Homo sapiens: one gene and its partners. The protein of the gene in region 1 interacts with the protein of each later gene in a biochemical or structural test. Each region holds a gene or a part of one and is shown in the gene's direction. Other genes may lie near its edges.

Evidence for each region.
Region 2: the proteins of BICD1 (region 1) and GSK3B form a complex in vitro, tested with the Homo sapiens proteins (one study listed by IntAct).
Region 3: the proteins of BICD1 (region 1) and PTPN23 form a complex in vitro, tested with the Homo sapiens proteins (one study listed by BioGRID).
Region 4: the proteins of BICD1 (region 1) and RAB6A form a complex in vitro, tested with the Homo sapiens proteins (3 studies listed by BioGRID).

The regions. Positions count from the first base shown.
Region 1 is NC_000012.12:32,102,543-32,109,849, forward strand, and holds the start of BICD1 (protein bicaudal D homolog 1), read left to right. Parts: upstream 1-4,304; 5' UTR 4,305-4,789; coding exon 4,790-5,002; intron 5,003-5,119; coding exon of another isoform or gene 5,120-5,146; exon of another isoform or gene 5,147-5,348; coding exon of another isoform or gene 5,349-5,369; exon of another isoform or gene 5,370-6,102; coding exon of another isoform or gene 6,103-6,159; exon of another isoform or gene 6,160-6,266; intron 6,267-7,307. UniProt on the Homo sapiens protein: Regulates coat complex coatomer protein I (COPI)-independent Golgi-endoplasmic reticulum transport by recruiting the dynein-dynactin motor complex.
Region 2 is NC_000003.12:120,084,446-120,091,469, reverse strand, and holds part of GSK3B (glycogen synthase kinase-3 beta), read left to right. Parts: intron 1-6,821; exon of another isoform or gene 6,822-6,906; intron 6,907-7,024. UniProt on the Homo sapiens protein: Constitutively active protein kinase that acts as a negative regulator in the hormonal control of glucose homeostasis, Wnt signaling and regulation of transcription factors and microtubules, by phosphorylating and inactivating glycogen synthase (GYS1 or GYS2), EIF2B, CTNNB1/beta-catenin, APC, AXIN1, DPYSL2/CRMP2, JUN, NFATC1/NFATC, MAPT/TAU and MACF1.
Region 3 is NC_000003.12:47,405,020-47,412,043, forward strand, and holds part of PTPN23 (tyrosine-protein phosphatase non-receptor type 23), read left to right. Parts: coding exon 1-62; intron 63-729; coding exon 730-779; intron 780-895; coding exon 896-1,027; intron 1,028-1,305; coding exon 1,306-1,386; intron 1,387-1,461; coding exon 1,462-1,593; intron 1,594-1,683; coding exon 1,684-1,731; intron 1,732-2,110; coding exon 2,111-2,167; intron 2,168-2,289; coding exon 2,290-2,348; intron 2,349-2,485; coding exon 2,486-2,565; intron 2,566-2,677; coding exon 2,678-2,792; intron 2,793-2,870; coding exon 2,871-2,936; intron 2,937-3,325; coding exon 3,326-3,471; intron 3,472-3,756; coding exon 3,757-4,068; intron 4,069-4,143; coding exon 4,144-4,298; intron 4,299-4,397; coding exon 4,398-4,549; intron 4,550-4,635; coding exon 4,636-4,815; intron 4,816-4,908; coding exon 4,909-6,667; intron 6,668-6,763; coding exon 6,764-6,948; intron 6,949-7,024. UniProt on the Homo sapiens protein: Plays a role in sorting of endocytic ubiquitinated cargos into multivesicular bodies (MVBs) via its interaction with the ESCRT-I complex (endosomal sorting complex required for transport I), and possibly also other ESCRT complexes.
Region 4 is NC_000011.10:73,702,056-73,709,079, reverse strand, and holds part of RAB6A (ras-related protein Rab-6A), read left to right. Parts: intron 1-1,566; coding exon 1,567-1,660; intron 1,661-7,024. UniProt on the Homo sapiens protein: The small GTPases Rab are key regulators of intracellular membrane trafficking, from the formation of transport vesicles to their fusion with membranes.

The DNA.
Region 1 (7,307 bases):
CCTTGAGCTTCTTAATCCTCAGCCTCTTTCATTTTTTTTTTTTTTTATTTGTTTTTGAGACAGGGTCTTGCTCTGTCACCCAGGCTGGAGTGCAGTGGCACGATCATGGCTCACTGTAGCCTTCACTGCCAGGCTCATGGGATCGTCCCACCTCAGCCTCCCAAGTAGCTGGGACTACAGGTATGCACCACCATGCTCGTTCGATTAAAATTTTTTTTTTTTTTAGTAGAAATGGGGTCTTGGTATGTTGCCCAGGCTGGTCTCGAACTCCTGAGCTCACATAATCCTCCTACCTTGGCCTCCCAGAGTGCTGAGATTACAGGCATGAGCCACTGCACCCAGCAGCCTCTCAGATTTTTATTCTTTGCACTCAACAAGCTCTTTTCTGCCTTTGGCTTTTACACATTATTTCCTTTCCCTGAAAAGCTTCTCCCCCACATTTTGTATATCCGACTCCTTTTTGTTCCTCATAGATAATAAAATGAATATCACTTCTTCAGAGAGATCTCTACTGATTATCTTTTTTTCTTCTTTCTACCTAAATTTTATCCTTGTTTTTCTTTTAAAACTTTTAAAAAGCACATATAAAATGCTTATGTGTGTGATACTATTCTATTCACAACAATCTCATAATTAGATTATATTATTATCTCCTTTTTAGATATGACACAACTGAGAAACACACAGCTAGTAAGTGGCAAAGTTGGATATGACCCAAGTAGACTAGCTTGTGCTTTTTTTTTTTGCTTTTTTTCTTTTCTTTTTTTTGAGACGGAGTCTCACTCTGTCACTTGGGCTAGAGTGCAGTGGCGGATCTCTGCTCACTCCAACCTCCAACTCCCGAATTCAAGTGATTCTCCTGCCTCAGCCTCCCGAGTAGCTGGGATTACAGGCGCCCACCACCACACCCAGCTAATTTTTGTATTTTTAGTAGAGATGGGGTTTCACCATGTTGGTCGGGCTGGTCTCGAACTCCTGACCTCAGATGATCCGCCCACCTCGGCCTCCCAAAGTACTGGGACTACAGGTGTAAGCCACCGAGCCTGGCCTTTTTTTCTTTTCTTTTGGTGAGTCTTGCTTTGTCACCAGGCTAGAGCACAGTGGCACAATCAGTACATTGCAGCCTTAATCTCTTGGGTTCAAGCCATCATACTGCCTCAGCCTCCTAAGTATTGGGGACCACAGGCATGTATTACCATGCCCAGCTAGTATTTTTTAATTTTTTGTAGCCATGAGGTCTCGCTATGTTGCCCAGGCTGGTCTTGAACTGCTGGCCTCAAGTGACCCTTCTGCCTCAGCCTCCCAAAGTGCTAGGATTACCAGTATGAGCCACCACACCCAGCCTAGGAATGCTTTAAGAAATTATTTTCTATATACCTGTCATTGATATATATGCAATACATATGGCATATACGAAAAAAGAGGGAACTGTAACTATGCAGTACTGGAACAGCATGGTGTATAGGAAAATAAATTTGGCTGGGCATGGTGGCTCACATCTGTAATCCCAGAACTTTGGGAGGCCAGGGTGGGAGGATCACTTGATCCCAGGAGTTTGAGACCAGCCTGGGCAACATAGACAGACCCTGTCTCTACAAAAATTTAAAAAATTAGCTGAGTGTGGTGGTATTCATCTGTAGTTCCAGCTACTCAGGAGGCTGAGGTGGGAGGATCGCTTGAGTCCAGGAGGTTGAGGCTGCAGGGAGTCATGATCATGCCACTCCACTCCAGCCTAAGTGATGGAGACCCTGTCTCAGAAAAAAAGAGAAAAAAAACAAGAAAATAAGTTTATCTTCTTTACGTTAAATACCAACATTTAAGGATCAAAGTTCAACTAAGCAACATCTTAAAGTGTCAGAGTGTGCAAGACATGCCTGAAATCAGACAAAAGTGACAAGTGACAAAAGTGTATCAATCAGAAAAACGGGGCAGGATAGAGCATAGGGGCTGGACCACAATGGAAATTTAGCAAAAAGGAAAGTCACAGAGGCAAACTCTGTTCTTAGTTTGATCCAAAGGAGAGGGAGGCACAGGCAATCTAGTGCGAGTCTTATGATCCCTTTGGAAGGCCTATGCTTACAGTTTGTAGAGTGAGGAACAGCCAGAGGCTTCCTGGGAAGGCAGGTTAGCTACCTGCAATTGCAGGTTCCATCTCTTTTCAGCAGTTCATCATCATTCATCAACGTGTCAGAGGTCAGATGCCACGGGAGCACACAGGAGGGGCTTCCCACCTGGAGTGCGAGATAAGGAAAGATGGGTCGGATGTTGTAGTCATTATCATCCGCTTCTCTACAAGGCTGGAATTTATGGTGGCTGCACATTTGGAATGTTTTCTCCTTTTATTTATTTATTTTTAGATCAGACAATCACAAGAGAATATTCTTTTGTTTTATTTTTAGATCAGACAATCACATGAGAATATTCTGTTGTGATCGCTGGCGTTTAGAAGGAAACTTGTCTGGTTTGTGAAGCAATGGAAAACACATCCAGACAGCCTGCTAGTGGAAACTTTGGAAGGGCACTGTCATATGCTTTTTCTCCCACGCCATCAACAAGTGTCCTTTTTTTTTTTTTTTTTTGAGATGGAGTCTCTGTTGCCTAGGCTGGAGTATAGTGGTGCCATCTGTACCCTCCACCTCCTGGATTCAAGCAATTCTCCTGCCTCAGCCTCCCAAGTAGCTGGGATCACAGGCGTGCACCACCATACCTGGCTAATTTTTGTATTTTTAGTAGAGATGGGATTTCACCATGTGGGCCAGGCTAGTCTTGAACTCCGGACCTCAAATGATCCATCCACTTCTGCCTCCCAAAGTGCTGGGATTATAGGCGTGAGCCACTGTGCCCGGTCAACAATCATCTTTTTTTTTTTTTTTTTTTTTTTTACCAGGTACACAATGATGGGAGAGTTGAGTCCTGCTTTCTAACTTAGAAAACGCATGTGTGTTCATCACCTGGTCACTGAGAAACAGCTCTGGAATAGGTGCCATGCAGAAGAAGAGAGGGAACTGGAAAGACCCACTGATCTGTGGGTCTCACAGCCTCCCGTTACACAGAAATTGCTTCTTTTCTCTCATGTTGCGTTCTTCCTCTTGATTCTCGACCCTTCTCCACTCTTTCATTTACTCCACTCTTACTTTGCTTTCACCTCCTTTTGTAACCGTTCATCATCACTCTTCATATGGATTAATGTGATTATCTTAAAAGCATGTAATATGTAGTTGCTGGGTTTGTATGAGTAATGAGTGAACCTGAAGCCAACATAATGATCCCGTTTAGTGCTCCCGAGTTAAGATTCCAGAGTTGCCTGACTTTGGACAAATCACATCTCCCTTTGCCTTTCACCCCCTGTAAACTGAGGATAATGGCTCTTACCTCAAAGCATTGTTAGGATTGGAGAGAACGCATGTTACATACTTAGAAGAATGCTTGGTATGGGTCTCAAGAACTCTTAGCTCTTATTGTTTAAAAAATGCTTATTACAGGGCATCGTTGGTATCTTATATAGGGAATTTCAAGCAGTTTTCCTTTATTGAAGACACAGAGTAAGGTGCTTTGATGGAAACTATTGGGGCAAGATATACAGTACCTAGCTAGAGGTTTCCTGGGTGCATGTATTGTGGAGATATTTTTTTTCTGAGTGGATAGCGCTCTTGTGATACGCTGGGTGAGGGCGAGCAATATTTAGCGGACTGTCCTGTGAGGATAGTAAGGTTATCTGGTGAGAGTGTTAGGTGGCCCAGGCCAGACTTGGGAGAGGCAGGGAGAGAGGGGGACGACGGAGGAGGGCGCCTTGGGGTGCGTCTTGAAAGCTTTGGGAAACCCAGCGGTCTTTTGGGGGCAGGTGGCCCAAAAAGCCTTCTGCGCGCCCAGGGGACGAGGAGGATGCGCGGACCGCGACCGCGATAGTTTTGTTTGCTTTTCTCGGGAGAAAGCGTTCCAGGCAGTTTCCTGAGCTTCGGCCCTCGACGTAGCAAAAGAGCCCGGGCGCCCACGCCGCTCTCGGGGTCTTCTACTGCCACCGGGACAAAGCCCTGGGAGGAGCTCCCGCCCCCGCGAGCCGGACAGGGCGGAGGCTCCCCCGCCGCGCGCGCCCCACCGCTTCCCAGTCCCAGACCCGTCGCCTGCGCCTCCTCCTGGCGCGCCTCACGGTGCAGCGGGCGGCGGCCCGCGCGCCCGGCGGGAGGCGCCTCGGGATGTTTCCGTCTGGTCCTTCCCTCCGCCCCCCGCGCTGACTCCATCCGCTCCCCGCCCCCTGCTCGGAGCCGCCGCCACGCGGGAAGGGAGGGAGCCGGCCCCGAGACTGCATCATTCCGCACCGGCTGCTGCAGGGCCAGAGGGAGCAGGTGGAGCGAGAGAGCGAGCCGCGAGCCGGAGCGCGCCAGACCCAGGGCGAGACTGCAGTGACGCGGCCCGGGAGACATGGCGGACGGGCGTCTCTGAATAAGCAGAATCCGGAGCCCCTCGCTACCCGCGGCCGCCGCAGCCCGGGCCATGCCGCACGGCTGCTGACCGCACGCAGGGGCCGGCCCCGAGGACACATGCGGCGGCCTTTGCCGCCTCGCCCCTGACCCTCTGCCCTGTTCTCCATGTTGCATTTCTCGTCAGTTTCTCGGGCGGTGTAGCTGCCGCTGCCACCAGAGCCGGCGGGGCATCGCGCTGCTCATTCATCCGGCCGCACTTTCTTTTCCGTTTCCACCCATCCCTTCCCATTTCCTTCTCCCTTTCCCCGCCAGCTTCGCATCCATCTCCCCCACCCCGTAACCCCCTCCTGCCTCCATCCACCGGGGCTATGGCCGCAGAAGAGGTATTGCAGACGGTGGACCATTATAAGACTGAGATAGAGAGGCTAACCAAGGAGCTCACGGAGACCACCCACGAGAAGATCCAGGCTGCCGAGTACGGGCTGGTGGTGCTGGAGGAGAAGCTGACCCTCAAACAGCAGTATGATGAACTGGAGGCTGAGTACGACAGCCTCAAACAGGAGCTGGAGCAGCTCAAAGAGGTGAGTTGCCTGTCACCTCTCCCTTTCCTGGCCCTCACTCCCCCCACCCGCAAGGCCCACTCATCATGATCAAGAAGTCATAAAGGAGGTGATTGAAAGGACTGTTTTTTCTTCTAGGGCCCTTTGTTGGTAAGAGAAGATTGAAAGAGTCCATTGTTTCCTCCCCCAAGAGAAAAATTGCCTAAGAAATGAATATATAAGCTGGAATTTGGGAGGCAATGGCTGTTTGGCCTGCGGGGGAGGGAGATTAGTAAGAGTCATCAAGTCTCAGCACTCTAAGACGACATTCAAGTGGGTTGGAATGTATAAATCAAACTTCTCAAAACCGCTGTTATCTCAAACCCAGGTTTCAGCGACAATTTCGTAGTCCACAAAAGTGATGAGGTTTGTGCCTGAGGACCCACAATTTCAGGATTTAGACTGTGTGGCACCTCAGCTTTCCTCTGGATGTAACCACTCCTTGGTGAGAGAGGGAACTCCTCACCAATCCCATTTGACAAAGGCTAGGCAATCTTCATTCTGCTTGGCTTTAGTCATTCTTGTCATTGGGCTGCAGAAGAAAAACAACTTTGCTGGGTGATCCCACTGCCTTGATTTCACCTCGGAGCGAGGCTGGGCCATGTCCAAGTCTTATGAGGTCACCCTGACTAGAAAAAATTGAACTCACCTACAAATAGTCTGAAAGAGTGGTGTATATCAAATACGTGGGTAGTGTTGCATTTCAAATGAGGCTCTTCTGGTTGAAATGATATATTTATAAAACCAGAATATCAAAAATGGGTGATGTATAATGTCTCTTTAGTTTTTTGGTATTTGGCCTCTTTTAAAGCCTGTCGGATGTATGGGAGAAAACAATGAACGTGCTTTGATTTCCTATCAGTCACTCTTAAGAACATACATATTGTTTAAGTAACTCGGTCTTTTTTATCTGATTCTTGAGGCACTATGGGTAGCAAATAACCACTTACAAATTTAAATGTAATATACACTCCTTTTCTGTGTGTCAAGTCCTTATTTTTAGGTGCATATTGACATTTAAATGTTAATTATTGTTTGGCATATAATATCAAAAATCTATTATTTATTTTATGCTGTTACAGTTAAAAGATGTGATTTATGACATACTGAATCAACTTGCCTTCCAATTTAGTGTGTAATATGGTAAGCATTTATACTTTTAGATATGTCTTATTTTTATTTGGATGCCTGTCTACCAAAAAATAAATGTACTACCTATGATTAAAAATCCCAACTAGGAATCTAATTTTTGTGTGTCAGGCTGTAAATTTCTGGTTCCTATTTTACTTACCATGTACCTGTCTGGTCTTAACAACAGCTGGACTTGTTTATATTTTCCAACTTAGATTAGGCTGACATGTTTAAATGCAGTGATGCTAAACCTTGTGAAGTGAGGAAGCAGGATGATGACTGTCATTCTCAGAGATGTTTTGATATTGTCTATACCTATCAACACTGCTTTGCCAAGATAGGGAAGTGCAAACCAGAAAGTGGTAAGCCATCACCTTCTTGATAAAGGAGATGGACTTAATTTAATGAAATGTACCTCTTACTGACTTTGCTGCTTGATTTAAACAATCCTTCTAGGGATATTTCTGTCATTGCACTTACCTTGCATAGCAAACCTTAATGCAATTGTGTTTTGCCTTTGCTACACCATGAGCTTTGCATCCCAAGTCTTTAACACAAAAGCTAGCACACAGTGGGCATGAAATATTTTATGAAAGAATCAGTTTGTACTAGAAGAAGGCACACTTTTATCAAGGGTTCACTAGTCAATATTGATTAGTGTTAGATAAATACTAAGAAAATTAGGATGTATAGGAAGTGACAGATGTTAATAAAACTACCTGTATTAGTTTCACCAGCAGTAATGAGAAAAATGTGAAAAAAACGTTTTGTAGGAATAATGTAACTGTGGTTTCTTAATACAGAATAATGCAAATACCAACTAAAATTTTTTCTATAAATATTTTAATATATATTTTGTTCTATATAGCAGGAGGTTAATAAAAATTTACCAGCATTATTTTTACTAAACGATTCTTGTTCATATATTTATTTTCAGTTGCATTTAGCATAAGTGAAATTCGAGATTCCTAAAAAACTGGTTTATACAGTTATATAAAAATGTATTTTAGGTAATAAAATTATTATAGTTGATTATTTGATAGTGAGGCCTATTATTTTTATTCTTTAAACATAGAATATACTTTAGTTGGAAATATAACTTAAATGAGTTAAATTGATTTCAAGTAACATTTCTTGTATGAAAAGTAAATCCAAA
Region 2 (7,024 bases), on another chromosome or scaffold:
TTGAATTCTTGGTAATACAGATACTAACTAAGGATGGAGTAACTCTTGTAAAATATATAGATGAAAATGTTTAATTCCGATTACCATATAGGTCAATTTAGAATTTTAAAAGTTGGAGTTTAGTGTTAATTATGTGTTTTTGACAGCTTTGACTTTAAAAGCATTTAAAAGAAAGGGGAGTCTTTAAGCATTTGTTAGGATGCTAGCATTCTAAGGAACCCCTGTTGAAAACAGACATAAGAAATTGTAGTCCTTGCTCTCAAAAGCTTATCCTTTAGTTGTAGAGGGAGGCTATGGGGAAAAAAAAATTAAAACAATAGCGTGATGACTGCAAGATTGTAAAATACAAATTGAATCATTTGTTCAGAGTGGCAAAGAGTAAAGGGGTGAGACTGATGGTTGGGAGAGGAAAGACTTCCTGCGGACAAGGTGTATTAGGACTGATGTTAAAGGAGGTGGTAACTTGAACTGGTAGAAAAGCATGAAAGGTCTAGGTGGAAGGAGTGTACCAAGGAACAATGATGGTGAGTTTTGCATGAGAGACAATAATCAAGTTGACAAATCTGAATTAAAGGGGCCTAAATAAGAACATAAGAACAGATGGAATTTGAGAAATAAGAGAAAGTTAGCTGATGGAGGGCAGAGGGGTTCTGTACAAGTTTGATTGAGATTCAGAAGAGATCTGGATTTATTGTTGGTTGCTGAATAAGACGTAAGATGATTTTTGCAGTTGAATTAGTGAATTATAGTAGAGAGATGCTAGAGCCTTTTTAGGGAGCTAGTAGGGTATGTTGTGAATCATGAGGGAATAAAGTAAAATGTGAAAGTGGGGTGAAAGGAACAGGTTTGAGAGACAGTGTGAATGAAGAACTGGCAGAACTTCATACTGGACTGAAGTGGAATATTTGTGAAGGAGTCAAGAGTTAAAAATAAATTCTGATGTTACTGGCCTGGAAGACTTGACTGCTAAGTTATATTGTTAATTGTAATGGGAAAATTGAGAAAGTGCTGAGGTGAGAGGGTAGGTGAGTTCACTTTCTTAAAATTTAATATACAATAAGTTCCCTTGAAATTCAGACAGCAGTTAGTTACTGGCAATGATATTTGACTTCCTAGTCTATTAATTGCACAGTTTCTAATTTTTCTACACCTAAAGATGTTGGATTTATATTCGGGAGCAGTAAACTAAGGGCTTTTATTTAAATGCTTCTCATCAAAGTCCTAATTTTTTTTTTTTTTATATACAGCTTCAAAAGCCTCACACTTGAAACCTGGTTATAATAGTTTCATGATGGCTTATTTCAGATCAATGAAAATACTTTTGGGACTAAACTGTGACTGTAACATTTTAGATATGTAGCCATTAATCTTTGATATATGCTTAAAACTTGTTTTTTATAAATAATGATTATTACTATTATTTTAAATGCAAAATTTATCTAAGAATAAAGTATTGAGAGCCTTCACTTTGTGAAGACTCCAGAAGAAATTAAAAGTTGATTTTATAACAAGTATTTTTTGCCCTTTTTGTTGAGTTTAGGCATTAATCCCAAATTTAAATCAGTATATTTGAAATACTACTTTTTACTTGCTATAGTGAAACCAATGTTTCATTTTTGTTCACTTCCAAGTTTACATGTAATTAAATAAATGTTTATAAAGTTTTTCTTTAGAATCACATGATATTTTACTCCATAGGGAAAGTAAGGGACTGTTTGTGGCACTTTTGGTTAAAATATTAGTAATCCTTTTGGTATATACAATTGGAGAAAATTTAGCTAGTTGTTTAGGTTTAATACTTAAATATAAGATTTAGAAATATGAAAATAAGTCTGTATCACTTAAGTTGTTTCCTCATATAAAACTTTTTTAGATCAAAATTTCTATTAGCAAAGAGAGAATAATAGTAGCTGCATATTATTCTGCAGTATTACGTCGTATGGTGATTAAAGCCAAAGAGTAGGTAGCAACTTAGAGTTTCCGTATTCCCCTGGGAAGTTTAATCTCTTTATGACATCTAAAAATTAGGTTATTAGAGTTTAGTCCATTTCTTGATAATCCTGTGTTAATGTGGAAAAGAGTTCATGTGTGAGACTGAAAACCAGAACTTTATTTTCAGTCATTTCCCAACCCGACTTCCCCAGAGTTGTTAAAACGTTTAAGATATTTAAGAATTGCATGCTTTCTTGTTGCATGCACCTGTAGAATGCTAATTGTGAAGTGACAGTAAGTCACAGGCAAAAGGAAAAACTTCAAGGGAACCCAGTGATTCACAAATCACCTTATGGCTGATTGGGAACTGCATTTAGAAAATGAGGTGACATCTTCTCATTTCACTGGCAAAGTTCAGCTGAAAATCAGTACTTGCACGCTTTACTGTGTAGCCCTTATATTAGAATTGAGTTGCAGGTGTGAGATAATATTTTGGAGAAACAGCAAGGCTGGGAAAGTCAGAGATTTTATTCCAGCAGCAGAGTCTAAAGAGTGGGAGAGCTCTATTTGTGTGTGCACTTTATGCATAGAGAAGGCTGTGAAACATGCATATGTTGACCCTATTGTCACAGTTCCATACTTTTAAATAAGACCCATGAAGTTGAGACAGGGTTGGAGATGACAGACAGGATGTGAGATTGTGGTGCTTCTTGTGATGCTCCACCCTATAATGGAGAATGGAGGGGCAGAACGCTTGTGTGGGTGAGACAAGAGTGTGTGTTGGTACTAACAGGACCAACCGGGTTCCCCGGATATTGTTCTTCTAAGAACATAATCACCATAAGTAAATTAATTTGTTGGAATGTTTATCATTTTCTAGCTGATTTTTTGTGTGTGTGTGTGGGGTGGTGGTGGTGGAAGGGGAGTTTTCCCCGATTTCAAGAATAAAAGCATTTTCATTGTTCAGAAGAAGAGCATTTTCATTAAAGCGGAGGTTGCACTCTTGGCATTTTATCTTGAGTTATACAAATCATCCTTGGTTATACAAATCAAATTGCTTTTGAAATTTGTTGAGTGTAATGTATAAATGTATATTTATATAAAAACCTATGTGAATAGAACAGCAAGGAAAAACTGAGTAGAGTTAAAGAAGTTTGTTTTCCCTGAGATTTTCTGCCTTTAAATTTATATAAAAAAGGAATATTCCATTTTACGTTATTGAGTTTTCTATTTTTTTAAATGAGCTAATACTCAGTACATAATGGACATTTTTAGTAAATTATTCCAATATACTTGTGTCTGTAATGCATTTGATGTGGTATAAGATTTAGAAACACAATTTAGTTCGGCTGGCACGGTGGCTCACGCCTGTAATCCCAGCACTTTGGGAGGCCGAGGCGGGTGGATCACGAGGTCAGGAGATCAAGACCATCCTGGCCAACGTGGGGAAACCCCGTCTCTACTAAAAATACAAAAATTAGCGGGGGCGTGGTGGTGTGCGTCTGTAGTCCCAGCTACTCAGGAGGCTGAGGCAGGAGAATCGTTTGAACCCATGAGGCGGAGATTGCAGTGAGCTGAGATCGTGCCACTGCACTCCAGCCTGGGCGACAGAGAGAGACTCTGTCTCAAAAAAAAAACAAAACAAAAGACAATTTAGTCGATTTGGGTTCTTAGTTTATAATCCCCCTTACCATTTTTGCTTATATTTTGGGAAGAGAGGTCAACTTCCAAACAATGTGCAGGTTCCAATTTTATAAGTGATTAAATCTTATATTTTTTGTATTGAATAGTTTTCTTAGCATGTTTGGTTTGATCACTTGAAGTAATGATGTATTTGTCTTGAAACTAGTTTTGTCAAACCAACTTTTTATTTCCAGAGTACCATGGTTAACAACAGCACAAAGCCAAGTCCTTAACGTGTTCCCTTAATAACATGGTCTAAGGTTAATTTCTTGATTCTTATTTCAAATCAATTCAGTAATAAAAAGTACACTTTTTTTTTTTTTGAGATGGAGTCTCGCACTGTTTCCTGGGCTGGAGTGCCATGGCGTGATCTGGGCTTACTGCAACCTCTGCCACCCAGGTTCAAGCGATTTTCCTGCCTCAGCCTCCCAAGTAGTTGGGATTACAGGTGCCTGCCACCACACCTGGCTAATTTTTTGTATTTTTAGTAGAGACGGAGTTTCACTGTGTTGGCCAGGCTGGTCTCAAAATCCTGACCTTGTGATCTTCCCACCTCGGCCTCCCAAAGTGCTGGGATTACAGGCGTGAACCACCACATGTGGCCGAACTAAATTGTGTTTCTAATTTAGTTTTCCTGAAGAATAACAGCTATGCATCAATGTGGAATTGTGTTATTTGGAATCTCACCTTATTGGAATTGGCTGGTAATTGACAGTAAACCAGAAGTGCTCCTGAGCAGCTAATATCTGCAGACAAATGGAGTGTAAACTTTGCTCATAGGTTAGTTTTCAGGCTTTTATTAACGGTTCCTTGTTATTATTTAACATATAGTTGTAATTCATTGAGTTGTCTGGGTTTTTTTGAAATCACAGATCAGGGGAATGGATAGGTACTGATTAAGCATTATGCTACTGAAAAGAATGGATGATTAGGGGAAACAAGCATATTGGGATTACTTAGTGTATGTAGGGTATGTAGGTTCATATAGTTCCAGGGTAAATCATTCTGATAATTGTTGAAAATGTTCACCCAGAGAAATTTTTTTTTTTTTTTGGAGACAGGGTCTCGCTGTGTTGCCTATGCCTAGCCTGGAGTGCAGTGGCACAGTCTTGGCTCACTGCAGCCTCTGCCTCCTGGGCTCGGGTGATCTTTTAACCTCAACCTCTGGAGTAACTGGGACTATAGGCATGCGCCAACATGCCTGGCTAGTTTTTGTAGTTTTTATAGAGAGGGGGTTTCGCCATCTTGCCCAGGCTGGTCTTGAACTCCTGGAATCAAGCAATCCTGCCTCAGCCTCCCACAGTGCTGGGATTACAGTCATGAGCCACTGCACCCATCTGAGAATATTAATTCTCTTTTAAAGAGGCAGGAGGCAGAAAAATCTCTTGTGGAAACCTGGGCTTCTGCATAAACTACATAAAATATCTGTAATTTGTTGATCACTGAAGTGATGAAGAGAACTGGGTCACCTCTGTCTGATTCACCATCTTCTAGTTGGATTTCAGCAGTATGGATAAAGGTACTAAAGTCTTTAGTGTGCTAGCCCAGGGTATTGTTTCCAACTCTTTCTTCCATTGTCCATCTACATTTATTAACTCAGCAGCAGAGTTTTATCTGATTTAAGATTTGTTGTCTTACTATTTCTGTTTTTTTTTTTTTCCTCCTTAGTATATATGGAATTGCTGCTTGGATTTTGGCTGGCTTGTACCTTTTGTTTGTGGACTGCTTAGAAGGCACTGCATGGAGTCATTTAAGCTTTCTTATGAATTATGAATAGCTATGTAGAGAGGAACTTTTCTAGATACATTTATGGCCTATGAGAATTGAAAAGCTGGGTATCTTAATTGTTAGGCTGAAGAAAAAGGGTGATAGTGGCAAAGTAGTTTTTCTTTTGGAGGTCTGAGAAATTCTTAGGGGCTTAATTGGCTAATATAACTAGAAAGGTTGGGTGATTTAGGTTTTTTTCCAAGGAAAGGTATCTTATTTAAATGCAACACTGTCTGCTTCCTGTTATTTTATAAAATTAGTTAATACTTTTTTTTTTTTCTCAAGACGGAATGTCACTGTGTCGCCCAGGCTGGGGTGCAGTGGCACAATCTTGGCTCACTGCAACCGCCACCTCGAGGCCTGGTTCAAGGAATTCCCCTGCCTCAGCCTCCTGAGTAGCTGGGATTACAGGCATATGCCACCATTCCCCGCTAATTTTTTTGTATTTGTAGTAGAGATGGGGTTTCACCATGTTGGCCAGACTAGTCCTGAACTCCTGACCTCAGGCAATCTGCTGGCCTCAGCCTCGCAAAGTACAGCAAAATCAGTTAATATTTTTAATTGATTAACACTTTCTTCATGACCTGTGTTGAAGTTATTGAGTTGAGTCAATTGAATTTCTAATGCTAGATTTTGAGTATGTGGTGTGAGCACCTGAAGAGTTGGAGGTACTGGAATTATGTCTGACATCAGACTGATAGTATTTGCAGGGACATTTGCCCTAGTGGAATTCAGGGTTTTCACATTCTATACATTACTTAAATTATGAAGGAAAGGGGGAAGCTTTGAGTTGGTAGACTTTTAATAATAAGATATAATTACATGTATATAGAAGAGCAACGTACTGTATATCATATTCTCATAATATATGGTAATAACGGCAGTAATTATTGAGTGCGGTGTGCCAGATAATTGCATGTTTTATTTACCTATTTTGCTTTAAATTTTAAAAAATGTAATTTACTCACATGGTTCAAAATTTTAAAGATATTCAGTGAAGTCTTCTCTCCTGCTCTGCAACAACCAGTTCTCTTTCCTGGAGACCACTGGCATTACAATTTCTTATGTGTCCTTTCATAGGTATTCTGAATCTTTACGGATTAATGATTTCTATAGTAGACTTGCATTTTGTGTATACATACATAAATTAACAATAGCTTTAGCAGAAGTGTTAGAATTAAAACAAATTTAAATCAGTAACTCTAGAAAATTGCTATTTTTTAACCTATTAAATTAGTAAATACTTATTTCTCTAAATATAAGTTAGTTGGAGAATAAGTGCAAAGATGACAGAGCTCCTCTCGTGGCAATTAGAGGTAAAATGTTAATAGTCTTAACCAATGAACAATTAATAGCACATTTAAAATAGATGTTTATTTCATAATAAAAAGACAGGATAATTTTTTAACTTTCTATTTTTCTAACATCTTAGATGAGAAAACCTGTTCTCTTGAGAGATCAGAGGCGCAGAGTGCGTCAGTGTCAATGAAGCCTGTGCCTTTTACTTCTTTAAGAGCGTACGGTTTCATTCTGCTCCTAAATCAAGCACCCCTTAGTTGTTGAATAAAAATTACTTTTATAAAGGAATATATGATTTAAAGAAATCAAATAGTGCAGAAGGGCTTATGATGGAAAGTAATCT
Region 3 (7,024 bases), on another chromosome or scaffold:
AGGCAAGTCTGTGGCCCATGAGGACATCAAGTACGAGCAGGCCTGTATTCTCTACAACCTTGGTGAGCTGCCTGATCCCTTCCCCCGGCCCTACTCCCCAGTCCTGCCAGCCTAGCTTTCAGCTCTTCAGATGGCCACAAAGGCAGTGGGCTGATAAAGGGAGGACTCCAGGATTCCCGCCCCTCCACTGACCTCCCCACAGCCCTGCCAGCTCCTCCACTGTTTTCTGGGCTGGGCCCGTGGGGAGCCTCTGCTGGGGCGAGGCTCTACTGGGCTGGCTGCCACACAGAGTTGCCACTGTGTGCTCTGTCTGGGAGAGAGGGCCTTTCTTCTTTGACTGGACAGCCCCTCCCCACTGTGGTTTTGGGCTGCTTCAGGCAGGAGGAGAGTGTGGCTGGCCTCAGCTTACCCTGCTAGTCAGCCTTAGCCTGGCTCAAGGGAGAAGCTTGGGGAGCCCCAGAGTTCTGTGCAAACATCCCTGAAGCTTCAAGATTGGACCCCTTGGACAGGAGCCCTTCCATCCTCTGCCAAATGCAGAGCAGGAGACTGAGGGCTGGGCAGGACTTCTGAGTTTCCCTGTTCCCTCCAGCTTGGGTGTCCTTGGACTCGTTGCCCTGGTTCTCAGAGCCATGTTGTCCTGATTGTGGATAACAGCAGTGCCCCCTCTGTCTCACCTTCACATGGGTGTGAGCAGCCCCAGGCCCCTAACACTGTCCCCTCCCTCCCCAGGAGCGCTGCACTCCATGCTGGGGGCCATGGACAAGCGGGTGTCTGAGGAGGTGAGGAGAGGGGCAGTAGTGGAACATGTGGACATACCAGGGAGGGGCAGCCTCCCAAGTATGGATGAATCCTGACCCATGGAGTGGACACAGGCCATCCTCCCACTCCCTCCCAGGGCATGAAGGTCTCCTGTACCCATTTCCAGTGCGCAGCCGGCGCCTTCGCCTACCTACGGGAGCACTTCCCTCAAGCCTACAGCGTCGACATGAGCCGCCAGATCCTTACGCTCAACGTCAACCTCATGCTGGTGAGGAGGCGCCCTGGTTGGAGTGGAGTTGAATCCAGGGAAGGGGATGGCCAGGGAGGGGGCAGTTGGGCCTGGATCCTGGACCAAGGCAGTGAGGGACAAGCAAGGGGCCTTGGCTTTGTTGAATCAGGAGCACCGTGGTGCTGCTTGGAGTGGGGGCAGCTGGGGGAGAGGGCAGTGAAGAGGGATCCCTCAGTCTGCCCCTGGGGAAGGATAAAGGGAAGGGGAAGCGGGAGGCCTTGGGTGAGCGAGGGAGTGCACCTCACGTGTCGCCCCAGGGCCAGGCTCAGGAGTGCCTCCTGGAGAAGTCGATGTTGGACAACAGGAAGAGCTTTCTGGTGGCCCGCATCAGTGCACAGGTAGGGACGGGGCTGAGGGGAGGCCTTCACTTTACTGCTGACTCCCCCACTCATTGGGCCCCACCCTGTTCTCAGGTGGTAGATTACTACAAGGAGGCATGCCGGGCCTTGGAGAACCCCGACACTGCCTCACTGCTGGGCCGGATCCAGAAGGACTGGAAGAAACTTGTGCAGATGAAGATCTACTACTTCGCAGCCGTGGCTCATGTGAGGGCCTGGGGCCCCAGGGCGGGGCAGGGCGGGGCTGAGTGGCCACAGCTCAGGAAGCAAGTCGTGGCGTCTCTTCTTCTTTCCCAGCTGCACATGGGAAAGCAGGCCGAGGAGCAGCAGAAGTTCGGGGAGCGGGTGAGCTACAGCGAGGAGGGGACTGGGGACCAATGGCAGCCTTCAGTGAGATGCCGGTGTGCTCCCGCTCCTTACACACCAGGGGGTGGCCTTCTCTGTCTCACCCTGGCCATCACCCTGCTGGAGGCCTGGTGTCTTAAGTGTTGTCCCATCTGTGCAGCCCTCGTCCCTCGGGGTCTGAGGAGGTGGGGCAGGCTCCCTACAGAGCAGGTGGCTGGGGCAGGGTGTGGCGCCACCTTGCTGCTGTTGGCTGGGGTGGTGCCCGGCTGCCTCCTGAGCTGCTTGTCATCTGATGGACAGGCAGGGCCGGGTGGGAGGCAGGAGGAGAAAGGGTCCAAGCAGAGGAGGACAGAGCAGGCTTTCCTGCCACCCTCCACAGGTTGCATACTTCCAGAGCGCCCTGGACAAGCTCAATGAAGCCATCAAGTTGGCCAAGGTAAAGCTGAGGAAGGCCTGGCTGCCCTGAGGGTATAGGAGCAAGCCCGGTAGGACTGAGGGGGTGTCCTGGTGCCAGCCTTGGTTAGTGCTAAGGCCCCACCCCTGTCCCTAACCCCACAGGGCCAGCCTGACACTGTGCAAGACGCGCTTCGCTTCACTATGGATGTCATTGGGGGAAAGTGAGTCTGTGGGGGTGGCCCTGGTTCCCTCTTTTTGTGAAGGGTCTTGTCCCTCTGCTGGCATCTACATGGGAAGTAGGTTCTGGATCCCCACTGACACCCCGTGACTGCCCACTCCCCCTGCTCCTGATCCCCAGGTACAATTCTGCCAAGAAGGACAACGACTTCATTTACCATGAGGCTGTCCCAGCATTGGACACTCTTCAGCCTGTAAAAGGTCGGGGAGCTGAGAGGTGGGGGCAGAGGTGACGGTGGGGTGGGGACAGGACACAGGAGGCTGCCTCAAGGACTCTGCGTGGGCCTGATCTCCACAATTCCCACCCCCCCAGGAGCCCCCTTGGTGAAGCCCTTGCCAGTGAACCCCACAGACCCAGCTGTTACAGGCCCTGACATCTTTGCCAAACTGGTACCCATGGCTGCCCACGAGGCCTCGTCACTGTACAGGTGGGTGGAGGGTGGCACAGAGGGAGGTGGGGTGTCTTGAGATGTGGGTCTTCAGCAAATGCTCTGTCGCTTCTGCAGTGAGGAGAAGGCCAAGCTGCTCCGGGAGATGATGGCCAAGATTGAGGACAAGAATGAGGTCCTGGAGTGAGTGTGGGACTTGGGCAGGGAGGCGGAGGCAGGCAGCACTTCCCGGGCCTCTGGGGGCCCCAGGGCTGCCTATGCTGGGAGAGGAATGAAATGTCCATTCCAAACAGGTTTCCCAATGCTGCCTTCCCGCCTGGGGTGGTGGGGCTAGTGTGTAAGGCAGGAGTCATGTCTTGGGAGGAGGAGGTGCCTTCTGTTCCACTGTTTCCAGCAGTGCCCTGGGCATGTTCTGTGAGACCAGGCCAGACCTGGTAGTAGGGGTCCGAGGTCACAATTTGCTCTCTGCTGAGACCTCAGATTGAGTGGTGAGGCTTGCCCTAGCGGCTCCTTTGACATGGTCAGAGTTGGATCAGCACCCAGCACCCACCTGGCCCTGTTGCTCCCCACAGCCAGTTCATGGATTCAATGCAGTTGGATCCCGAGACGGTGGACAACCTTGATGCCTACAGCCACATCCCACCCCAGCTCATGGAGAAGTGCGCGGCTCTCAGCGTCCGGCCCGACACTGTCAGGAACCTTGTACAGTCCATGCAAGGTGAGTAAGGGGCAGAGCAAGCAGGTGGAAGGGAGTGTGGAGGTCATCTGCTGTGGCCTCCTCCGTGTCCCTGGTCACTGAGGATGGAGGCTGCACCCCTCTAGGCCCTGGCTTGGGCATCCACACCCACTCCTCTGAATCAGCATACCTCTTGCACCCTGCTCAGTGTGCGCTGGGCCTCACTTAAGCCCTGACCTGAGGGGGCGGTTCTGTCTCTTGGGGGAGGGGCCCATGGGTGCCCGGTCAGCCTGCCTCAGGGGCTGCCTGTACAATCCACAACCCCAGTGCTGTCAGGTGTGTTCACGGATGTGGAGGCTTCCCTGAAGGACATCAGAGATCTGTTGGAGGAGGATGAGCTGCTAGAGCAGAAGTTTCAGGAGGCGGTGGGCCAGGCAGGGGCCATCTCCATCACCTCCAAGGCTGAGCTGGCAGAGGTGAGGCGAGAATGGGCCAAGTACATGGAAGTCCATGAGAAGGCCTCCTTCACCAACAGTGAGCTGCACCGTGCCATGAACCTGCACGTCGGCAACCTGCGCCTGCTCAGCGGGCCGCTTGACCAGGTCCGGGCTGCCCTGCCCACACCGGCCCTCTCCCCAGGTGAGCCCCACCAGACCCCATTGGGAGACTCGAGCTGGGGGTTTCTCTGGCCTCACTGACCACTGCTGCCCACAGAGGACAAGGCCGTGCTGCAAAACCTAAAGCGCATCCTGGCTAAGGTGCAGGAGATGCGGGACCAGCGCGTGTCCCTGGAGCAGCAGCTGCGTGAGCTTATCCAGAAAGATGACATCACTGCCTCGCTGGTCACCACAGACCACTCAGAGATGAAGGTGGGCTGGGTGAGCAGGGTAGAGGGGCTCTGGCTCCGGGCCCCACCCTTAGGAGTCGAGGCCCTGAGTGTCCGTCCCTGGCCCCCACCCCTTCCTCAGAAGTTGTTCGAGGAGCAGCTGAAAAAGTATGACCAGCTGAAGGTGTACCTGGAGCAGAACCTGGCCGCCCAGGACCGTGTCCTCTGTGCACTGACAGAGGCCAACGTGCAGTACGCAGCCGTGCGGCGGGTACTCAGCGACTTGGACCAAAAGTCAGTGCCCAGTCCTCTGCTCTTTCCCGGAGCCACCTGGAGCCCAGCCCCATGGTTCACCTGGAGCTGGCCCTTCTGCCCACCAGGTGGAACTCCACGCTGCAGACCCTGGTGGCCTCGTATGAAGCCTATGAGGACCTGATGAAGAAGTCGCAGGAGGGCAGGGACTTCTACGCAGATCTGGAGAGCAAGGTGGCTGCTCTGCTGGAGCGCACGCAGTCCACCTGCCAGGCCCGCGAGGCTGCCCGCCAGCAGCTCCTGGACAGGTTTGTGTGGCCCTGGGGCTGTGGTGCGGCTCGGGTCCAGACAGGCTGGGGTGATGGGAGCCTGGCCCCACTTTTTCCTTGCCTGTCGCACAGGGAGCTGAAGAAGAAGCCGCCGCCACGGCCCACAGCCCCAAAGCCGCTGCTGCCCCGCAGGGAGGAGAGTGAGGCAGTGGAAGCAGGAGACCCCCCTGAGGAGCTGCGCAGCCTCCCCCCTGACATGGTGGCTGGCCCACGACTGCCTGACACCTTCCTGGGAAGTGCCACCCCGCTCCACTTTCCTCCCAGCCCCTTCCCCAGCTCCACAGGCCCAGGACCCCACTATCTCTCAGGCCCCTTGCCCCCTGGTACCTACTCGGGCCCCACCCAGCTGATACAGCCCAGGGCCCCAGGGCCCCATGCAATGCCCGTAGCACCTGGGCCTGCCCTCTACCCAGCCCCTGCCTACACACCGGAGCTGGGCCTTGTGCCCCGATCCTCCCCACAGCATGGCGTGGTGAGCAGTCCCTATGTGGGGGTAGGGCCGGCCCCACCAGTTGCAGGTCTCCCCTCGGCCCCACCTCCTCAATTCTCAGGCCCCGAGTTGGCCATGGCGGTTCGGCCAGCCACCACCACAGTAGATAGCATCCAGGCGCCCATCCCCAGCCACACAGCCCCACGGCCAAACCCCACCCCTGCTCCTCCCCCGCCCTGCTTCCCTGTGCCCCCACCGCAGCCACTGCCCACGCCTTACACCTACCCTGCAGGGGCTAAGCAACCCATCCCGGCACAGCACCACTTCTCTTCTGGGATCCCCGCAGGTTTTCCAGCCCCAAGGATTGGGCCCCAGCCCCAGCCCCATCCTCAGCCCCATCCTTCACAAGCGTTTGGGCCTCAGCCCCCACAGCAGCCCCTTCCACTCCAGCATCCACATCTCTTCCCACCCCAGGCCCCAGGACTCCTACCCCCACAATCCCCCTACCCCTATGCCCCTCAGCCTGGGGTCCTGGGGCAGCCGCCACCCCCCCTACACACCCAGCTCTACCCAGGTCCCGCTCAAGACCCTCTGCCAGCCCACTCAGGGGCTCTGCCTTTCCCCAGCCCTGGGCCCCCTCAGCCTCCCCATCCCCCACTGGCATATGGTCCTGCCCCTTCTACCAGACCCATGGGCCCCCAGGCAGCCCCTCTTACCATTCGAGGGCCCTCGTCTGCTGGCCAGTCCACCCCTAGTCCCCACCTGGTGCCTTCACCTGCCCCATCTCCAGGGCCTGGTCCGGTACCCCCTCGCCCCCCAGCAGCAGAACCACCCCCTTGCCTGCGCCGAGGCGCCGCAGCTGCAGACCTGCTCTCCTCCAGCCCGGAGAGCCAGCATGGCGGCACTCAGTCTCCTGGGGGTGGGCAGCCCCTGCTGCAGCCCACCAAGGTGGATGCAGCTGAGGGTCGTCGGCCGCAGGCCCTGCGGCTGATTGAGCGGGACCCCTATGAGCATCCTGAGAGGCTGCGGCAGTTGCAGCAGGAGCTGGAGGCCTTTCGGGGTCAGCTGGGGGATGTGGGAGCTCTGGACACTGTCTGGCGAGAGCTGCAAGATGCGCAGGAACATGATGCCCGAGGCCGTTCCATCGCCATTGCCCGCTGCTACTCACTGAAGAACCGGCACCAGGATGTCATGCCCTATGACAGTAACCGTGTGGTGCTGCGCTCAGGCAAGGATGACTACATCAATGCCAGCTGCGTGGAGGGGCTCTCCCCATACTGCCCCCCGCTAGTGGCAACCCAGGCCCCACTGCCTGGCACAGCTGCTGACTTCTGGCTCATGGTCCATGAGCAGAAAGTGTCAGTCATTGTCATGCTGGTTTCTGAGGCTGAGATGGAGAAGGTGAGAAGAGGGGGTGGGTGCCCACGAGGGCAGTGTGGGGTGGCAGGGCAGGGGATCCTGGAAAACCAGGTCTGTCTTGGCTTATCTGTCCCTCAGCAAAAAGTGGCACGCTACTTCCCCACCGAGAGGGGCCAGCCCATGGTGCACGGTGCCCTGAGCCTGGCATTGAGCAGCGTCCGCAGCACCGAAACCCATGTGGAGCGCGTGCTGAGCCTGCAGTTCCGAGACCAGAGCCTCAAGCGCTCTCTTGTGCACCTGCACTTCCCCACTTGGCCTGAGTTGTGAGTCCACTGCTCTGGATGGTGGTTGGGGGTCTAAGTGCTGTCCAGTCCTTGGTGCTGGGAGGGATGAGAGCCT
Region 4 (7,024 bases), on another chromosome or scaffold:
GTCTGCAGATTGGCGGTTTACTCTCAAACAGTTTTTTAAAAGTGTTTCAGAAAATTTATATACACAGAGAGAATGAGAAGATAACACAAGCAAATGTAAAATCTTAACAGTTGGAGTGTTATGTAAGAGAATGTTCTTGTTTTTAGGGAGTGGAGAATTCTAGAATAATAATTTCTTGTAGGCAAGAAGGGAGTGGGATCTAATACATAGATGTAAGTTTTGAGAATAAGGACAACTCTTTCATAGTAATAGGACTAGAGGTAGGATATAAGGGCACACTTGCAAGTAAATGGAAGCTTGTGGAAATTCTCTTCCATTGCCCATTTTCTGTGTTGTAGGAAGCAGGGTTTGTCAGCTGATAGTTTAAATCTAGCTAATTAGAACATTTGTATATTTATGGAATACTTATCTGCCAGCTTAAGCATTAGGAATACCAATATAAATGACATAATCTTGCACTTGAGATCTCACAATTTGAGACATAGTGCTAATTGTAATGCATCACAAAATACCCTGTAAAGGTAATATTAAAGTATTAATATTTTGTATCTAGAGGCTTTACCATACATGTCTTTGACTCACTTACTTCACTTACAGAAATCCACAAAATCGGCTGGGCACGGTGGCTCACGCCTCTAATCCCAGCACTTTGGTAGGCTGAGATGGGTGGATCACCTGAGGTCAGGAGTTTGAGACCAGCCTGGCCAACATGGTGAAACTCTGTCTCTACTAAAAATACAAAAATTATTCAGGTGTGGTGGTGGGCGCCTATAATCCCAGCTGCTCAGGAGGCTGAGGCAGGAGAATCGCTTGAACCCAGGTGTTGGAGGTTGCAGTGAGCTGAGATCGCGCCATTGCACTCCAGCCTGGGTGACAAGAGCAAAACTGTCTCAAAAAAAAGAAAACCACAAAATCTAACCTAAGGAAATGATTTGCAGTGCACAAAATATTAAGCACAGATATTTAGGGCAACAATTTTCATAGTAGTGTAAAATTGGAAAGCAACTTGCATTCTAATAGTTTGGGAATGGTTATATAAATTATAGGAGCAAATTGACAGAAATTGTTTAGCCATAAAAATTGTTTTACACAAAGATTTGAATTTTAAGGCTAAAAGCCTGTGGTCTGATATTAAGGGAAAGAGGCAAGCTATTAAGCGTTTTTTGTTTTGTTTTGTTTTTAGCTTTTTCTTTTTTTGAGACAGGTTCTGTTGCCCAGACTGGAGTGCAGTGATGTGGTGGCCTAATAATGGCCTGCTGCAGCCTCAACATTCCTGGGCTCGAGCATCCTCAAGCTATTAAGTTTGTAAAAGTAAAAAAATTACAGGATGAGCCCAGTCAAGTGAAAGCAAATCAGTAACAAAAAAAAGTCTTTAAAAAAATGTTAAGTATACACACACAGAAACACACAAATTTCAAGAGTGTGGCAGATTAATGAATTTTTAAACTAATGTGACCTGTATAACCAGTCCTTATATCAAGGAAAGTTATTTTCAGAGCTTTCTTTATAATCTTTATAATACTGCCTCATGTCTCAAAAGTAAGAAGTTTGTTTGTTTCTTTACAGGCAAGTGTCAATTGAGGAGGGAGAGAGGAAAGCCAAAGAGCTGAATGTTATGTTTATTGAAACTAGTGCAAAAGCTGGATACAATGTAAAGCAGGTAAGTTGAGTTGAGGTTACCAAATTGAAAAAATATGAAATAATTGTGTGAGTATTCTATTCTCTGGTGTATAGGTTTCCTTCCACCTGGCAAGAGCAGGCCTTACAAACTAGCAGTATATTTTCAAACAGTGAAAAATATAAATGTGGCATAGTTTTTGGAAAAAGAGAAAAGACTTGCAAACTTCAGATCGTGGATAGAACTACTGCAAAGTGGTAAATCTACCATATTGTCACTACATTCCTACTACATTGCTTTAAAGGTAAATTTTCTTTTCTTTTTTTTTTTTTTTTTCTTTTTTGAGATGGAGTTTCGCTCTTGTTGCCGAGGCTTGAATGCAATGGCGTGATCTCGGCTCACTGCAACCTCCACCTCCTGGGTTCAAGCAGCTCTCCTGCCTCAGCCTCTCGGGTAGCTGGGATTACTGGCATGCGCCACCATGCCCAGCTAATTTTGTATTTTTAGTAGAGATGGGGTTTTTTTCATGTTGGTCAGGCTGGTCTCAAACTCCTGACCTCAGGTGATCCGCCTGCCTTGGCCTCCCAAAGTGCTGGGACAGGTGTGAGCCACCATGCCCGGCCGGTAAATTTTATTTCAGAGTTTGATGCCAAGACTGAGATAAATGAAAGCAAGTATTTACTGTCAGTAATGGTGTTCCACTTCTTGTTGTAAAAGTAAATTCTGGTTACTTTATCCTTAATAAAATGCTGGTGTTTGAACAGTGTTTACAACAGGTCTTTTTGGGGGAGGGCAGGAAAATATAGGGAGATGTCACATTATCAAGCCATTTTCTACAAGATAGGTCAGCCAGAGACTCACATGCTTAACTCTTCAAGGCTGTATATCATGTAGGGTAGTGGTCCCAGATTTATAAGATTTATGGACCAATAATTTTTTTTTTTTTTTGAGATGGAGTCTTGCTCTGTCGCCCAGGCTGGAGTGCAGTGGCGCGATCTCGGCTCACTGCAAGCTTCACCTCCCAGGTTCACGCCATTCTCCTACCTCAGCCTCCCGAGTAGCTGGGACTACAGGTGCCTGCATCACGCCTGGCTAATGTCTTGTATTTTTAGTAGAGACGGGGTTTCACTGTGTTAGCCAGGATGGTCTCAATCTCCTGACCTCGTGATCTGCCTGCCTCAGCCTCCCAAAGTGCTGGGATTACAGGTGTGAGCCACCACGCCCGGCCTAGACCAATAATTTTCTTAATTGAGGGTGATCAACAGAGGGTAACAGTAACATCATTTAAATAGTTAAAGCTTTAGGAAGAAGTCTTTATATTGTTTTTATATTTTTTAATTTATTTCCCTCCATGCCTTGAATCATAATGTAAGTAATATTGAATGATCACTGATTCTTTCCTCATTAACATATTGTTTCATGGTCATGGTTTGATACCTGTGCTCATGCTTTTGTTTCCTTTGCTTAGAATGTTCATTTTTTTTCCCTTTCCTAATTGTACTCCTTATAAGTTTCAGTTTAGATGTCAGCTCCTCAGCAACATTTTCTCTGACATTTCCCATCCTACCTCCTGTCTGTGACACCTGATTCTCTTATGTGTTTTCACCGACCTGATCTCAGCAAAAACAGTATCATTACTTACCATAGTATATTGAAAATCTCTCTCTCTCTCTCTCTCTCTCTCTCTCTCTCTCATCGGAATTATATATTCCCAGAACCTAGCAATGTGTATGGAACGTAGTAAGTGATACGTAACTGAACCCATAGGAGCCACAGACAGTTAAATAATTTGTGTAATACCATTATATTAGCCATATGCCACTATTCTAAGACAAAGCAGTGGGTAGCTTCATCTGGCTTTCTCTTTTCTATTTCTTATATATATTTTCTCTTATATTTATTTATTTTTTTATTTGAGACAGGGTCTTGCTGTGTCAGCCAGGCTGAGTGCAGTGGTGCAATCTCGGCTCACTGCAACCTCTGCCTCCAGGGTTCAAGTGATTGTCATGCCTCACACTCCCCAGTAGCTGGGATTACAGGTGTGCAGCACCATTCCCGGCTAATTTTTGTACTTTTAGTAAAGACAGGGTTTCACCTTGTTGGCCAGGCTTGACTCAAACTCCTGGCCTTAAGTGATCTGCCTGCCTCTGTCTCCCAGAGTGCTGGAATTACAGGTGTGAGCCACCACACCCAGCTGGCTTTCTCTTTTAGAGACATTTTGATAAGGGTGTGAGCTAGTTGCTTATATATCCTGGTACAGGCTGTCCTTTTCCTGGTTAATAGCTAAAGAAGGCATTGCTGTAGTCCCCTAGCCCTGACCCTAAGTAGTCTCATAGGTTTAGAAACTCTAGAATTATCAGATAGCATACAGTAAGCACCACTGATGTCTAGTATCTTCATAATGTTTGATTGCTTCCAATTTTATTTTTATTATTTTTGTTATTTATTTATTTATTATTTATTTTCGAGATGGAGTCTCGCTCTGTCATCGAGGCTGGAGTGCAGTGGCGTGATCTCGGCTCACTGCAAGCTCCGCCTCCCAGGTTCACGCCATTCTCCTGCCTCAGCCTCCCGAGCAGCTGGGACTACAGGCGCCCACCACCACGCCTGGCTAATTTTTTGTATTTTTAGTAGATAGGGGGTTTCACCGTGTTCACCAGGATGGTCTCGATCTCCTGACCTCGTGATCTGCCCACCTCGGCCTCCCAAAGTGCTGGGATTACAGGTGTGAGCCACTGCACCCAGACTATTTTTATTTTTTATTTATTTATTTTTTTTGAGATGGAGTCTCACTCTGTCGCCAGGCTGGAGTGCAGTGGCACGATCTCAGCTCACTGCAACCTCTGCCTCCTGGGTTGAAGTGATTCTCCTGCCGCAGCCTCCCGAGTAGCTGGGACTACAGTCGAGCGCCACCATGCCCAGCTAATTTTTTTGTATTTTTAGTAGAGACGGAGTTTCACTATGTTGGTCAGGATGGTCTCGATCTCCTGACCTCGTGATCTGCCTGCCTCGGTCTCCCAAATTGCTGGAATTACAGGTGTGAGCCACCATGCCTGGCCCTTCTTATTTTTATTTTTTTGAGTTGTGGTCTTGCTCTGTTGCCCAGGCTGGAGTGCAGTGGCATGATCACAGCTCATTGCAGCCTTGACCTCTCAGGCTCAAGTGATTCTCCCACCTCAGCCTCCAGAATAGCTGGGACTACAGGCACACACCACCATGCCCAGCTAATTTTTAATTTTTTTCCAGAGAATAGGTTCTTGCCATGTTGCCCAGGCTAGTCTTGAACTCCTAGACTCAGGTGATCCTCCCAACTTGGCCTCGAAGATTTCGAGATTATAGGTATGAGCCCCTCTGCCTGGTCGATTTTTAGTAAATTTATAGCATTGTACAACTATTACCATAATCTGATGTTAGAAATTTTTTTTTTTTTTTTGAGATGGAGTCTCCCTCTGTTGCCCAGGCTGGAGTGCAGTGGCACCACCTCGGCTCACTGCAACCTTGCCTCCCGGGTTCAAGCAGTTCTCCTGCCTCAGCCTCCCAAATAGCTGGGACTACAGGCGCATGCCACCACGCCCAGCCAATTTTTGTATTTTTATATGATCCTGACCTCAAGATCCATCCATCTCGGCCTCCCAAAGTGCTGGGTATACAGGCGTGAGCCACGGCGCCCAGCCCTTCTTACTTTTAATTTAGATTGTTTTTGTTTTTGTTTTGGGTTTTTTTTAGACAGTCTTGCTCTGTTGCCCAGGCTGGAGTGAGTGGCACAATCTTGGCTCACTGCAACCTCCGCCTCCCTGGTTCAAGTGATTCTCATGCCTCAGCCTCCTGCCTAGCTGGGATTATAAGTGCATGCCACTGTGTCTAGCTAATTTTTATATTTTTTGTAGAGACAGGGTTTTGCCACGTTGGCCAGGCTGGTCTGAAACTCCTGGCCTTAGGTGATACGCCCACCTCAGCCTTTCAAAGTGCTGAGATTACAGGCGTGAGCCACTGTATCTGGCCAGAAATTTTTTAATTGTCAGTTTATTCTGCCTCCCCACTAAACAACAAACTCCATAAATGTTCATTGAATGAATGATAATATACTTTATTTTTTTTTAGCAGATTCTTAGAGCTGCATTGTTTTGCCATAAAAATAAGATTTATTTCATGTCCTTGGTTCTGTCTTAAGAATTTTCTTAGCTAGACTGAACAAGCCCTAGAGAAGCCAGGTTACTTGGAGAATTGCCCTTCATTTGCTGTTTTGACTACACCTTAGACATAGATACATGTTCATCTTCCGTTTCTTTGCATTCACCTGAACCCATGTTGAATTTTTTTTTTCCAATTTTTTTTAATTAGGCCAGGCATGGTTGCTCATGCCTATAATCCCAGCACTTTCGGAGGCTGAGGCAGGCGGATCACTTGAGGTCAGGAGTTCTACTAAAAAATTAAAAAATTAGCTGGATGTGGTCTCATACACCTGTAATCCCAGCTACTCGGGAGTCTGAGGCAAGAGAATCACTTGAACCCAGGAGGCGGAGATTGCAGTGAGCCAAAATCACACCACTGCACTCCAGCCTGGGTGACAGAGCGAGACTCTGTCTCAAGAAAAAAAAAAATAATAATATATATAAAATTGAGATAAACATTTATGTACAGTGAAATGTATACATCTTAAATTGACTATTAGATGAGTTTTGGTAAATGTATTTACAGGTATAATGACCACAGCAATGAAGATATGGAAATATGTTGTTAATTTCCCAATGTTTAGGGACATTTCTAGATAATCTTAATTGTTACTGGCTTCTAATTTAATTCTGTTATAGTCAGAGAATACACTCTGTAATATTTCAGTCATTTGTAATTTATTGAGACAAGTTTTATGGCCTATCATATGGTCTATCTTATTGAATGTTCTTATATGTACTGGAAAAAGAATTTTTTTTACAGTTATCAGGTATACTAGTTAACATGTTTGACAGCATTCTCAAACCTTATATAGCCTGGCTGGGCACAGCGGCTCATGCCCATAATCCCAGCACTTCAGGAGGTGGATGTGGGAGGATCACTTGAGGCCAGGAGTTCAAAACCATCCTGGTCAACATAGTGAAACCCTGTCTCTACAAAAGTAGAAAAATTTTTTTGAAAATTAGCTGAGCATGGTGGCATGCACCTGTAGTTCCAGCTACTCAGGAGACTGAGGCAGAGGATTGCTTGAGCCCAGGAGTTCAAGGCTGCAGTGAGGCATGATTGCGCCACTGCATTCCAGCCTAAGCAACAGAACAAGACTGTCTCAATAAACAAAAAAACACCTTATATATCCTTACTAGTTTTTTGTCCAGTTCTGTCGATAACTGAGAAGGGGATATTGAAACCTATAACAACAACGATGTATTGTTCGCTTTGCTGATTAGTTCTGTC